Linked DNA regions of Homo sapiens. The protein of the gene in region 1 purifies or fractionates together with the protein of each later gene. This does not show direct contact. Each region holds a gene or a part of one and is shown in the gene's direction. Other genes may lie near its edges.

Region 1 (5,068 bases):
ACCGCACCCGGCCAGTGAGGAGGTTTTTTAGCATTTTTAGACATTTGTGACTTCTATTAGATTTGATAATGTAATTTTATTTATTTTTTTGAGACAGAGTCTCACTGTATCACCCATGCTAGAATGCAGTGGCTCAATAATGGTTCATTACAGTCTTCACATCCTGGGCTCAGGTGATCCTCCCACCTCAGCTTCCCAATTAGCTGGGACTACAGGCACACCACCATGCCCGGCTAATTTTTTTGTATTTTTTTGCAGAGACAGGGTTTCGCCATGTTGCCCAGGCTGGTCTCAAACTCCTGGGCTCAAATGGTCCATCTGCCCTGGCCTCTCAAAGTACTGAGATTACAGGCATGAGCCATGGTACCTAGCTGGTAGTGAAATTTTTGGTTATTTAGGTCTGTTTTAGTTATTTAGGGAATTTTATAAATATTCATAAGAGATAACATTGAGTTCTTTTCTAATATTACATTCTCTCATTGACCTTCTTTCCTTCTCCTTTGACATTACCCAATAAGATGTTCAAAAATTTTCCATTGGGATGGTGAAATATCTTTTATTATTTATTTGTCATGCTTAACTACATTTGGTCTAGAGGAAACCAGTTACCAGCTTCCAGATTTTCTGTTAGTATAATCCCAGAGGATGTGCCGAATCCTCCAACTAATCAGTTGCAAAAAAACATGTGAAATTTTATCTACCAGGGTCTCTCATTAGAGACCCAGTGCCTATAGTGTTTTTTGGTGGCTGGCTTAGTCTGTTTTTTGTTGCTTAAGAATAATCTGAACCTGGATAATTTATAAGGAACAATATTTGTTTTTTACTGTTCTGGAGGCTGGGAAGTCCAAGGTTAAGGCTGGGCATCTGGTGAGAACCTTCTTGCTGGTGGGGACTCTGCAGAGTTCTTAGATGGCATAAAGCATTACATGGCAAGGGCCGGAGTGCCTAACTCGGGTCTCTTCCATCTTATAAGGACACCAGTCCCCTTCCTGAGATAACTTATTTATTCATTAAGCCATTGATCCATGTATACATTAATCTATTCATGAGCTCTGAACCTTCAAGACTCAATCACCTTTTCAATCCCCACCTTTTATTACTCCCACTTTGCGGATTAACTTTCAACATGTGTTTTGGAGGGGACAACCATTCAAACTCAGCAGTGGCTGATCACATACACTCCCTCTGCTGAGTTTGTAAGATTCTAAACTCTCAGAACATAGGAGTTAAGAAAATAATGTACTTTTTGCACAAACAGTTTAGATACAATCGAGCTCTGTTATTAGTTACATTGGTGGGGCACTCCCTAAATCCAGTTCCTAGACACCATAAAAGGTCCAACTTTGAGAATAAGAATTTGTAAGGACATGCAGTCTCAGGACTGCTAATGGTAGCTCTCTTCTGCACAATAGGTAGTAGGACTTTGTCAGTAGGACTTTGACAAGAACTACAACCTACTACAGAAATAGACATTAGGGTGATGCAGGCAATAAGACTCATTTAACTCACCAAGAAGAGACCTGTTCCTATTCAACTGTAACTTTACCAAACATGTTGAATTCTACCATCAAAATGGCTGTGTGAGAGAAAGTGAGTGTAAAGAGAATATGAGAGAGTTTACTACATCATTGAATAAATGCTTGGAAAGCACAGCATCATATGAAGTTTATGAACTGAGTATAGTTTTTTCAGTACTGTCACTCAACCTTTCTCCTCTATCTATGTGGGATGTTTCAGGACGCAGTGGCCTTTGAGGATGTGGCTGTGAACTTCACCCAGGAGGAATGGGCTTTGCTGGGTCCATCACAGAAGAATTTATACAGATATGTGATGCAAGAAACCATCAGGAACCTGGACTGTATAAGTAAGGATGATACCATGTCTTCACTTAATCAATTACAGACATTTGTTTCATGGTCATCAGTGCTGTTCAATGATTTGAAATATGGAAAGGGCATATGATGGACTCTTGAACAACACAGAATTCAGAGGTGACAGCCCTGAAAGAAGTTGTACATCCTCATCTAACTTTTTGTCCACCATAGCTTAAGCCGCCATTGACCAGCAGCCTTACTGGTAACATAAACAGTTGACTGGCTGGGCACGGTGGCTCACACCTGTAATCCCAGCATGTTGGGAGGCCAAGGTGGGCGGATCATGAGGTCAGGAGTTCGAGACCAGCCTGACCAACGTGGTGAAACCCCATCTCTACTAAAAATACAAAAATTAGCCAGGCGTGGTGGCGCATGCCTGTAATCCTAGGTACTCAGGAGGCTAAGGTAGCAGAATCACTTGAGCCCAGGAGGCAGAGGTCGCAGTGAGCCAAGATCACGCCACTGCACTCCAACCTGGGTGACAGAGCGAGAATCTGTCTCAAAAAAATAAAATAAAATAAAATAATAAAAAAAAGTTGATTAATCCATATTAATCCACATATTGTAAGTCATGTATTACATACTATATTCTCACAATAAAGTGAACTAGAGAAAGAAAATATTGATAGGAAAATCATAAAGAAGAGAAACTATATTTACTATTCATTAAGTGTATGATTAAAAGGTCTTTATCCTTATCTTTACATTGAGAAGGCTAAGTAAGAGGAGGGATTGATCTTGGTGTCTTAGGGGTAGCAGAGACTGAAGAAAATTCATATGTAGGTGGAGCTGTGCAGTTCAAACATGTGTTGTTCAAGAATCAACTGTAAGGCCGGGTATGGTGGCTCATGCCTGTAATCCCAGCATTTTGGGAGGCTGAGGTGGGAAGATCACTTGAGGTCAGGAGTTTGAGACCAGCCTGACCAACATGGTGAAACCCCGTCTCCAATAAAAATACAAACATTAGCTGGTTGTGGTGGCACGCATCTGTAGTCCCAGCTACTCGGAAGGCTGAGGCAGGAGAATCGCTTGAACCCAGGAGGCGGAGGTTGCTGTGAGCCGAGATCGTGCCACTGCACTCCAGCCTGGGCAACAGAGTGAGACTCTGCCTCCACCCCCAAACTGTACAGAATTAACTGTAGTTTGATGAACGAATCATGTATGATTGCAGTATACATAAAATCTTACTGTTTTATATAATTTTCTAATAATGTATAGTGATTTTCTGGGTCTCCCTTTTAGGAATGATATGGGAAGAACAGAATACTGAAGATCAGTACAAAAATCCTAGGAGAAATCTAAGGTAATTTGCACTCACAGGAGAAAGTTATGTTTCTGAAGTGATTCTCAGAGTAAAAGGAAATTTTAAAAACAAAGAAAATGAACAAGTCCAGCTTAAATTTATTTTTTAATTTTTTAAATTAACTTTTTTTTTTAGTCAGGGCCTTGCTCTGTTGCCCAGGCTGGAGTGCAGTGGCATGATCTTGGCTCACTGAAGACTCGACCTCCCAGGTTCATGTGACCCTCCCACCAGAGCCTCCTGAGTAGCCAGGACTACACGTGCAAGCCACCACACCTCGTTAATTTTTGTATTTTTTGTAGAGACAGGGTTTTGGCATGTTTCCCAGGCTGGTCTTGAATTCCTGGGCTCAAGCAATCTGCCTGCCTTGGCCTCCCCAAATGCTGGGATTACAGGTGTGAGTCACTGCACCAGCCTAAATTTATTTATTCTTAAAAAATTTCCTCCTAAAACATTTTATAAGAATTTACATATGAGGCTGGACATGGTGGCTCATGCCTGTAATCCCAGCACTTTGGGAGGTTGAGGCAGGCAGATTACTTGAGGTCAGGAGTTTGAGACCAGCCTGGCCAACATAGTGAAACCCTGTCTCTACAAAAGTACAAAAGTTAGCTGGGCATGGGGGTATGCACCTGTAACCCCAGCTGCTTGGGAGGCCAAGGCAGGAGAATTGCATGAACCCAGGAGGCGAAGGTTGCAGTGAGCCGAGATTGCGCCACTGCACTCCAGCCTGGCGACAGAGCAAGACTCCGTCTCAAAAAAAAAATTAGCCAAGTGTGTTGGTGCACACCTATGGTTCCAGCTACTCATGAGGCTGAAGTAGGTAGATCACTTGAGTTCAGGAGGTCAAGGTTGCATGAACCATCGTTCTGCTACTGCACTCCAGCCTGGTGACAAAGCAAGATACTGTTTCAAAAAATAAATTAATTAATTAAAAAGAAAAGGAAAAAAAAAAAACCCAGCTGGTGTTGGGTTGTCTTGCATAGCATTCAGTTCATTCATGTTCAAACAGGGCATGAAGCCTACACTTTGCATGGTAATGATAAAAAGGTATATCTGGCCAGGCGCAGTGACTCACTTCTGTAATCCCAGCACTTTGGGAGGCCAAGGGGGGGTGGATCACGAGGTCAGAAGTTCGAGAACAGCCTGGCCAGCATGGCAAAACCCTGTCTCTACTAGAAATACAAAATTAGCTGGGCGTGGTGGCGTATGCCTCTCTAATCCCGGCTACTTGGGAGGCTGAGGCAGGAGAATCGCTTGAACCCGGGAGGAAGAGATTGCAGTGAGCCGAGATCGTGCCGCTGCACTCTAGCCTGGGTGACAGAGCAAGACTCCATCTCAGGGAAAAAAAAAAAAAAGTACATCCAATACCTATTAATACACATAAATAAATAATCATTTAGAAACAACTATTTAGTAACGTACTACTCATTTTTTACAGATGTCATATGGTAGAGAGATTCAGTGAAAGTAAAGACAGTAGTCAGTGTGGAGAAACATTTAGCCTCATTCGAGATAGTATTGTGAACAACAGCATTTGTCCTGGAGAAGATCCATGTCAAAGCGCTGAGTGTGAAGAAGTCATAATGGGTCATTTATCCCTTAATAGCCACATCAGAGTTGATTCTGGACACAAACCACATGAGTATCAGGAATATGGAGAGAAGCCACATACACATAAACAACGTGGGAAAGCCTTCAGTTACCATCACTCCTTTCAGTCGCGTGGAAGGCCTCACACTGGAAAGAAACGCTATGAGTGTAAGGAATGTGGAAAAACCTTCAGTTCTCGTAGAAACCTTCGAAGACACATGGTAGTGCAAGGTGGAAATAGACCTTATAAATGTAAGTTGTGTGGGAAAGCTTTTTTTTGGCCCAGTTTATTACGTATGCA
Region 2 (3,660 bases), on another chromosome or scaffold:
TGTTATTCTTAGCAAAGAAGCTCTAGCCAGAAATTAAAACTGAATAAACTTTTGATTTTATTCATTTCCTCTCATAGTGGTTTATTTAATATATACAAATTTGACGTGCAGTTAAATAGACTATACTTTAAAATGTGTCATCATATTGAGAAATTACAGACGGTCTAACAAAACCACTCTCAAAAACATGTTTCAATTAAGTAACTGGTGTTTAGAGAAAGCTGTTCTGTCTAAAGTTACATAGTTCATTTTAAGCAGAAGAGGAATAAAAATATGCATTATCAAGATTCCTAGGGATGAGAATTCTCTCCCTTATCGTCTTTCCCATCAACTGTTTTCATCCTCATTTTCTATCATGTTTGTCTCAATTGCATGGCTCAAAGATTATAATGTTTCCTTGTTGTAACTAAGATTTAATGTACTGTTTTTGGAAAGACGAAACAAAAAATAAGGAAAACAAACACTAGGCAAAATTTTCTTGGGATAAACTGCAATTTGTTAAATAGTGAACATTGTATGTATATGTTTTCCAACTCAAAGAGGTCAGCTGCTGCATGCCTCTAATTCTACTTCAAAATGCTATGTTTGTGAAACTTAAGATGACTGTGTACATCACAATTCTTTGAAAAAGTCCAAAAATATTTCTAATAAGTACACACAGGTTGTTTGAGGCAAAAATATTGCTTTAAAAATCTGATACACTAATGCATTTCTTTACATTTTTGTTTACTTGTTTTTAAGTTCATGTTGAAAAATTATAAGCACCAAACAAATGTTTTTCTGAAAACACATCTTACTTGCCACGGATAGGCTTGTAATAGCAATAAGGGGGACAACACAAAAACTGAAAACATGACAATTTAGTTTCACATTTTATGCTTTTATAATAAAGTCTCAGTGAACATAGCTTTTACAAAGATTTTTTTCTGGCTTTTTGTATATGGCAAAGCTCCTCTTAGGTTCACAAGTTACTTGCAAAATGTAAAATTATGTTTCATTTAATACCATGCTTGAGTTGAGTAAAGTCTGTAAATGTAACATGTAAATAACCTTTAAATCATTACTATTTAATAAATTAAATGTATTGCATATAAATATTGTTACGATTAGGAGATGGACATTCTAGGAAGTAAATAATTAATGTGGCCAAGACCAGTAATAAAATTATATTTATTTTTTTTCTCCTTCAGCCAACAAATTACTCCAATCCGGTATATGCAAAATTATATATGGATGGGCAAAACTGTCGAAACTCCTTAGGAAGTGTTGATGAAAGGAAAGAACTGCTTCCAAAGAAAATAGAAATTGGTATAAGAGAGACAGTGGCATAATCAGTGATATCTTTTATATGCTGTATAAATGTATAAAATATAAGGATTACTTTTGTATGTTCCAACAGTATTATACTTGTTTTGGCATCAGCATTACCTCTTTCTTTATCTTTTTCCTGGTTAATTGTTTTCTGAGTTTTTTGGGTTTTATTTTTTGCTGATGACTATTGATTGACCATTTGTATGGTATTTTTATGAAAAAGAACTGCACTACAGTACAATTTACAACAATGCTGCTGATATGACACACCTTTGAATTTGTTAAAATTAAAAACAACGTATTCCTTTGTAGTGTGAATATGAGCAATCTATTTTATATGAACTTTTTTGGTTGTACTTAATCAACGAGGAGAATCTCTGCACTTTTCCATTATACGGTTTGAAGGCTGTAATACAGTGTCATATTATTTTTCTGTTTAAATTGATGGAAAAATGATTGAATGGTCAACTCTCTTCTTTGTGCCCATAAAGATCGATTCAGACTCTGCTGAAAATATATAGCTCTCACAAGTTCAGCATCACCTGCTTTGAAATTAGCCTTAGATTGCCAACCAATAGATGAGAATTTTGAGGAAAAAAATTAAAAATATGTAAAATTAATAATTTGCATGAACACAGATGACTACATTTTCCAAAACTTAGTGGACTCTATGTGATGTACTAAATGTATACACCTTGTAAGCAATAGTTATATTTAGGTGGTAGAACATAGCAAAAATATAACCGAAAGTTGGCCGACTGCACTTGCTATGGAATAAGACCTTTTATTCTCCCTCAGTCTCGAGATAAATAGCCAGCCTAGAGCACAACAGGGCATTGGGTACTTGCATCTTAGGTATTTCTTCCCAGTCACATCCATTTTGTGGAAGATTAACCCAACCCCTTACACTACACTGAACACTAAAGAATAATATATAAGCACACAAATTGGTGACAGAATTTCAATTACGTGAACGCATCCTCTTTGCTAGGTCAAAAAACAAAGGGCAAAGCAGACATTTTAGTATACAGAGTGATTGGCAAATATTTTCAAGATTTAATATGAGCAACCCATTATTTGCCCTATCCAAAATATATTCAAGGGCCTTCCAAGTTGTAGAAGAACAATGATCTTCCCATAATCAAAAGTGGAGAGTCGAAATGCTGTGCCAGTTGCTCTGGTATTCAGGTTTCTCTGGGTTTTACAGAACGCATGGACCCCATTCACGTTTGGTTTGTTTATCTTCAAATTTGAGTTGAAACGAGTGCGATTTATTTAAGTTGTATATAAAAATAAAAGGATAGCATTTTTATACAAATATCTTTAAAGGCACAAAAGATTTATTCACAAGTTTTGGAGGGCTTTTTGTTCCTCTGATAGACATGACTGACTTTTAGCTGTCATAATGTATTAACCTAACAGATGAAATATGTTAAATATGTGGTTGCTCTTTATCCCTTTGTACAAGCATTAAAAAAACTGCTGTTTTATAAGAAGACTTTTTGTTGTACTATGTGCATGCATACTACCTATTTCTAAACTTTGCCATATTGAGGCCTTTATAAACTATTGATTTATGTAATACTAGTGCAATTTTGCTTGAACAATGTTATGCATATCATAAACTTTTTCAGGTTCTTGTTTAAGTACATTTTTTAAATTGAACAGTATTTTTCATTTTGGTTATAATATAGTCATTTTGCCTATGTTTCTACAATGAAGTGTTAAATACTTTATAAAAAATTGTTGACTGACTTATTTAAATGAAATTCTACATATTTAAGAGCTTGTGTTGGGTAGTTTTTAAAAATAAGAAAATTCCTTTATGTAGCTTAAATATTCTGAGAGAACTGTTTTAGTAAACACGGCATTTTTATATCCTTAGAACATAATACACTCCAGGGGAAAACTGATTTCATTGTATCATCTTTCAATGCACAGTAGAGAAGGCATTTTCTGTCTTCATGGAGTAGAAACACTCCCCTTACTTTATCCTTTTCCCTGCCTTCCTGTGCCTGTCAGAGTCTCCATATTGCAATAGAAAGAAAGGTTCTATACACAGTAGCATGACAACCATGCTAAACAAGCCAAAGCTCTTCCTGTCCCTTTCTATTCCCCAAAACTGTACTTTATGGAAAATCAGATTTCCATTAGACGCTATTTCCACATTATTTTGTTAGAATGGTTATTTGCTATACCTACTTTTAGCATCAGACTAGAGATGGAAAATATAGGTGCGTCTGATTTACTTAACATTGAGTTATATTATTTGAAGGGGCCTTCTGATGTCAGAGCTGTGTAAATGCAACTGAAAATATTTCAAAGAACCCACAGAGTGGTGTGATATTA

Evidence for each region. Proteins that work in one complex are often made in the same cells at the same time.
Region 2: the proteins of ZNF563 (region 1) and LRP1B purify together in Homo sapiens (affinity purification with mass spectrometry; 2 studies listed by BioGRID and IntAct, with this or other methods). This does not show direct contact.

What each region holds. Positions count from the first base shown.
Region 1 is NC_000019.10:12,319,381-12,324,448, reverse strand, and holds part of ZNF563 (zinc finger protein 563), read left to right. Parts: intron 1-1,737; coding exon 1,738-1,864; intron 1,865-3,116; coding exon 3,117-3,177; intron 3,178-4,615; coding exon 4,616-5,068. UniProt on the Homo sapiens protein: May be involved in transcriptional regulation.
Region 2 is NC_000002.12:140,230,857-140,234,516, reverse strand, and holds the end of LRP1B (low-density lipoprotein receptor-related protein 1B precursor), read left to right. Parts: intron 1-1,190; coding exon 1,191-1,331; 3' UTR 1,332-3,094; downstream 3,095-3,660. UniProt on the Homo sapiens protein: Potential cell surface proteins that bind and internalize ligands in the process of receptor-mediated endocytosis.